2 separate regions of the Homo sapiens genome follow, and region 1 is linked to region 2. The links come from fine-mapping of genetic effects on gene expression. Tissue or cell type: whole blood. Region 2 holds a variant in brackets; the other region holds the start of a gene. All regions are shown on one strand. Distances are between the middles of the regions. Region 1 holds the start of ADM2 (adrenomedullin 2). Region 2 overlaps SBF1 (SET binding factor 1).

Region 1 (2,903 bases), 30 kb after region 2:
TCAAAAAAAAAAAAAACATATAAATGTGACACTCCCTGCCCCCTCAACTGGTCAAAATAAGTAAATAATACCTGCAAGGCATCCCTGCCCTCCCAGATCGGCCTGTGGGGTGTGTGCTCGGCACTCCTCGACTTATTCACCCAGCAAATGTTGACTGTGCTCCCATGGTGTGTCAGCAGGAGGGTTACGGGGTGAGCGCAGGGGTTGGGGAGACAGAAGGGGAAGCACGAACGGACGCAGAGATCCTCAGCTCACCCAACAGAGAGGCCAGTCTCAGCAGCTTGGAACCCGTGACACCAAGTCCAGGACTCGTGGACAGTGGGTAGGCGAAAGCTCTGTGGAGAACAGTGAACCATCTATCAACATAAACACATGCTCACCTTCAACCAGAATTTCTACTTCCAGGAAGGTGTCCTATAGACACATCTGTGAGCTCAAGGCAGCAACTCATGAAAAGACTGGCAGTCACCTAATTTCATATTAATAGCAGATGAGATGAATCATACAACACCTATATGTTGGAGTAGATCCAACCATAGGAAAGAGTGGGGTCTCTGATGTGAGGACGGTCGGGCTGTGACGCCTGTCACCCCACTGGTCACCAGTGTTGATTCGGCTGATGTGGCTGGCTCAGAGGCAGGTGTCCCCCTCCTTCCCCACTGTTCCCTGTGCGTCCCTCCGAAGCTGCACGCTCCATCGAAGAGGATGGAGGACCGGGCTTCGAGTAGCTGCGCTCCTCTGCCAGGACCTCCAAACAAGCTCTCAGGAAAGAACGGGGTCTCAGTCCTACTGCAAATCTGCACACATGGATGTGTGTGCCTCACATAGCCACACCTAGGTGTGCCCAGGGCAAGTCAGGAGAGGGCTCCCCCCCAGACCAGGGTAGGGGTCCCAAGTGGGTGGCAATGGTGAGGGGAGTCTCACGTTTCACTCGTTTTAAATTTTTCTTTTTCTTTTTTTTTTTTCTTTTTTTGAGACGGAGTCTCGCTCTGTCGCCCAAGCTGGAGTGCAATGCCGCGATGTCGGCTCACTGCAACCTCCGCCGCCTGGATTCAAGCCTCAGCCTTTCCTGCCTCAGCCTCCCGAGTAGCTGAGATTACAGGCACCCGCCACCACGCCCGGCTAATTTTTTGTATTTTTAGTAGAGACGGCCTTTCACCTTGTTAGCCAGGATGGTCTCGATCTCCTGACCTCGTGATCCGCCCGCCTCGGCTTCCCAAACTGCTGGGATTACAGGCGTGAGCCACCGCGCCCGGACACTTTAAATCTGTTACAAAAACCGTGCAATACTTTGGTCCGGGGTTGGAGCGGCCGAGGGTCGGTACAGCCTTTTAGGAGCGCAGCCCCGGGGTCGGCGGCACCGCGTCAGAGGAGAGCGGAATGGCCAGCCCGCTGCGGAATCCCGCGGACTTGCTGGTCAGGCTGGGGGGCCGGGGTCCACCGGGTCAGACCCTGGAGGGTGGGACCGCCCGGACTCGGGAGGTGGTTGACGGGGTGGGCCCCGTCGGGTCCGAGTCCGCCCCAGCCGTGGGATCAGCTCGGACGACGGTTCGCCCCCCAGAACCCCGCTGCAGCGTGGGGAAGTCCGGCCCCCGCAGGCTCGGGGCTGCGTCCCCACCAGAAGGCGCTTGGAGTGAGGCTGGCGGTCCCGCGGTCCCGGGCCGGTCGCCGAGCGCTCCCAGCGGGGACAGGCCCCTCCACCGCTCCCTTCGCCGCAGCCCCCTCCCCGCCCCGAGGGTGGCTGGGCCCGGAGGAGGGGCGCCCCGCCCCGTCCGTGCATCCGGCTCCGCCCCTTGCTGGAAAGGCTACGTATTCAGCCCTGGAGGTGCCATCCCGGGCCGCGACTCCGCTCCAGGCAGGACCCCCAACCCGCCCAGCCCGCTCCGCCTTGCGCCCCGGACCCGCGGCCGACCCCAGACCCGCTGCCCGCTTCGCGCCCGAGGCCTGCGCCCCGACGGACGCCCGTGCCCAGCTTGCCACGCCCACGCCCGGCGCCCCGACCGCGGAGGACTCCCCGAGGTGCCGGCGGAGGGGGTGGCTCGCGGCTCAGGCTGCCCCCGACGTGCCCGGCTCACCGCCCCCTCCCCTGCAGCCCCGCCCGCCATGGCCCGGATCCCGACGGCCGCCCTGGGTTGCATCAGCCTCCTCTGCCTGCAGCTCCCTGGCTCGCTGTCCCGCAGCCTGGGCGGGGACCCGCGACCCGTCAAACCCAGGTGAGTCCAGGTCTTGGGCCAGCCAACCCCTCTGGCCCCCGCAGGGAAGCAGAGTGCCGGGGGCCGCGGGGCCGCCCTCCCTCCACGCCTCCACCTGCTGCTAGGACTCCCCTCCCAAACAAAGGCCCCTACCCCAGGCTCAGGAGCGCCTGAGCAGGGCCAGAGGCCCCTCTTTCTCTGCCTCCCTACACAGGGCAGTTGCTCCTCCCCACACACATGGGCACAGCAGCCCCTCTTCTGGGGGTGTCTGCTGGGGGAGGGGAGGCTGGCGGTATCCCTGGCCGGCCTGTGACCACCCTAAAGGGAGGGCAGAAGCCGAGTCACCCTGAGCCCTGAGAGTGGTGACCCGCAGAGGCTGGGCCGCCGGGGTGCCCTTTGGCCAAGGAGGTGCCGGTTCCCGGGACACGTGACCCGGGCCACTGAGATGGTCCCAGGCCCAAGCCCAGAGGGGACGCGGGCTTCCCCTGGCCGTGCTCCAGGCTGTGTGTGGATGGGGGCTGTGGGCTTCCCCTGGCAGTGACCCAGGCCTGTGTAGAGGCAAAAGTGGGCAGGTGTGAGTTCTCCAAAAGGCTGAGCCATCTGGTTGACATTCTCCATCTGCCTCTGCAGGGAGCCCCCAGCCCGGAGCCCTTCCAGCAGCCTGCAGCCCAGGCACCCCGCACCCCGACCTGTGGTCTGGAAGCTTCACCG
Region 2 (2,894 bases):
AAGCAGTGCAGCTTGAGAGACAGGAGCCTAAGACATGGGACCACATAAGATGGGCCCCACAGTCACCTGTTTTCTGCCCAGCCACAGTGCAGGGAGGCAGGGCCAGAGCAACACACGGGAGCTTGCTGAGCCGAGGAGGCAGAGACGGGACGTCCAGGGGCGCTAGTGCAGCTGGGTCTGCAGGGCAGCCCACAGAGGGGAGGGAGCACCACAGCAAAGGGGCTCTAGAAATCTAGACAGAGCCCTCCTTGAGTCGTTGGCCAAATTAGGCTGCCATGTGCAAAGCAAGATGTCACAAGGCCTGGCAGAGAACAGCTACTAAGAAGCTATGACCTGACGCCGGCAGCAGTGGCTCACACCTGTAATCCCAGCACTTTGGGAGGCCAATGCGGGTGGATAACCTGAGGTCAGGAGTTCAAGACCAGCCTGGTAAACATGGCAAAACCCTGTCTCTACTAAAAATACAAAAATTAGCTGGGCATGGTGGCGGGCACCTGTAATCCCAGCTACTCGGGAGGCTGAGGCAGGAGAATTGCTTGAACATGGGAAGTGGAGGCTGCAGTGAGCCGAGAGTGCGCCACTGCACTCCAGCCTGGGAGACAAAGTGAGACTCTGCCTCAAAAAAAAAAAAACAAAACTATGAGCTGAACCCAAATTCTAGAGGAATGCTAAAAGATACTGGACTTCCAAAAAGCCAGTGTGGCAAGACCTTACCGAAGACACAAAGACACAAAACTCCAACTGAAGCCCTGGAGAGGCCACACGCCTTGGGCTGCTCTATCCCTGGAGCTTCTCTAGAGGTGCTGGAGAGCTGCCCAAACAAAGCTTAGAAACAAGCTTCAAACAGACCAAGCTGACGCACAAGCTCATTACCTACCTGCGAGAATAAAACCCAAGACTCTAAGCTTAAAGAAAGACAACACAGGCAGGGCACAGTGGCTCCCGCCTGTAAGCCCAGCACTTCGGGAGGCCGAGGAGGGAGAATCGCTTGACCCAAGGAGTGTGAGAACAGCTTGGGCAACATGGCAAGACCCCATCTTTATATATATTTTTAAGTTATGTTTCAAGATTTAAAAGAAAAGATGGACATAATGGTTTATCAGATGGGGAATCTCTACAATAAAAAGCGTTAAATTCATTAGATGGGGCCGGGTGTGGTGGCTCATGCCTGTAATCCCAGCACTTTAGGAGGCCAAGGTGAGAGGACTGCTTGAGCCCAGGAGTTTGAGACCTGCCTGGGTGACATAGGGAGACCCCATCTCTACAAAAAAAAAAAAAAAAAAAAAAAAAAAGTAGCCGGCACGTGGCCCACGCCAGTAGTCTTGGCAACTCAAGAGGCTGAATGAAGCAGGATGATTGTTTGAGCCTGGGAGGTTCGGGCTGCAGTGAGCCATGACTGTGCCACTGCACTCCAGCCTGGGCAACAGAGCAAGACCCTGTCTCAAGAAATTAAAAAAAAATTCATTTGATGGGCTTCAGTATATTAAAAACAAGAAAGAAAAGAGTAGTGAACTTGAAGACAAGCCAACAGAAATCATCCAAAATGAATTGCAAA[G/C]ATAAAGACTGAGAAAAAACAAACAGAGCTTCAGCAACGTATGGGACAATAAAGTTCCAGAAGGAAAGGGAGAGATCATGCAGAAAAAGTAATTTATAGAAGCAATGGCTTGAAATGTATTAAATTTGACAAAAATGATCATCCCACAGACCCAGAAGTTTAAAGAGCCCCAAGCAGGACGAAAGCAAAAACCACAATGGTCAAATTGCTGAAGCCAAAATTAAATGCAAAATCTTAAGGCAGAGAATCAAAGGGTGCCATTATACACAGTTTATAAGGATAAGAATCAACACCAACTTCTAAGCAGAAACAATACAGGCCAGAAAACAAAGTAATATCTTTTTTTTTTTTTTTTTTGAGGCAGAGTCTCACTCATGTCGCCCAGGCTGCAGTGCAGTGGCGCGATCTCAGCTCAGTGCAGCCTCCACCTCCCGGGTTGAAGCGATTCTCCTGCCTCAGCCTCCTGAGTAGCTGGGATTACAGGCACCCGCCACCATGCTCAGCTCATTTTTATATTTTAGTAGAGACGGGGTTTCACCATATTTGCCAGGCTGGTCTCGAACTCCTGACCTCAGGTTATCCACCTGCCTCAGCCTCCCAAAGTGCTGGGATGACAGGCGTGAGCCGCTGCGCCCAGCCTAGTAATGAGATCTTTTAAAGTGACATCAGTTTAACTGCTGAATTAAAAAAAAAAAAAAAAAAAAGAAGCAGCTGTCAACCTAGAAATGCATATCCAGAGAAAATGCCCTTTGCAAAATAAAGGCACCAAGATGTTTTCAGATAAACAAAAGCTGAGGGGATTTGTGACTGGCAGCTCTGCATTACAAGAAATATTAAAAATTCTTCAGGCTGAAGAGAAATAATAACCAGACCAGATTATACTGAAAGAATGAAGAATGTTATAAATGGCAAAAATAGAAGACTTTTTCCTTCTTTCTTAATTTCCTTAAAACAAAGTTGACTATTTAAAACAAAAACAGGGCCGGGCACGGTGGCTCACGCCTGTAATCCCAGCACTTTGCAAGGCCAAGGCGGGCGGATCACCTGAGGTCAGGAGTTTGAGACTAGCCTGGCCAACACAGTGAAACCCCGTCTCTACTAAAAATACAAAAAAAATTTAGCCGGGCATGATGGTGGGTGCCTCTAATCCCAGCTACTTGGGAGGCTGAGACAGGAGAATCACCTGAACTCAGAGGCAGAGGTTGCAGTGAACCGAGATCGCACCACCGCTCTCCAGCCTGGGTGACTGAGGGAGACTCCATCTCTCAAAAAAAAAAAAAAAAAAAAAAAAAAAACCATACTGGGTGTTTATGTCATACGTAAAAATAAAATGTGTGAC

Evidence for each region. PIP is the estimated chance that this variant, and not a neighbour inherited with it, causes the effect. A credible set is the group of variants that fine-mapping cannot tell apart.
Region 1: ADM2 starts here. The variant in region 2 is the best candidate, but not a certain one, in a credible set for the expression of ADM2 in whole blood (INTERVAL, PIP 0.83).

What each region holds. Positions count from the first base shown.
Region 1 is chr22:50,479,745-50,482,647 of GRCh38, forward strand. It overlaps ADM2 (adrenomedullin 2), which reads left to right and starts at 1,799. Exons shown (of 3, transcript NM_001253845.2): 1 at 1,799-2,019; 2 at 2,093-2,213; 3 at 2,823-2,903. The coding sequence starts at 2,104. RefSeq lists silencers at 1,586-1,875, 1,926-2,045.
Region 2 is chr22:50,449,902-50,452,795 of GRCh38, forward strand. The region is part of intron 36 of SBF1 (SET binding factor 1); the gene reads right to left. Among named protein-coding and RNA genes, the nearest start is that of SBF1, 24 kb to the right of the region's middle. The variant G/C (reference allele first, on the strand shown) is at 1,556.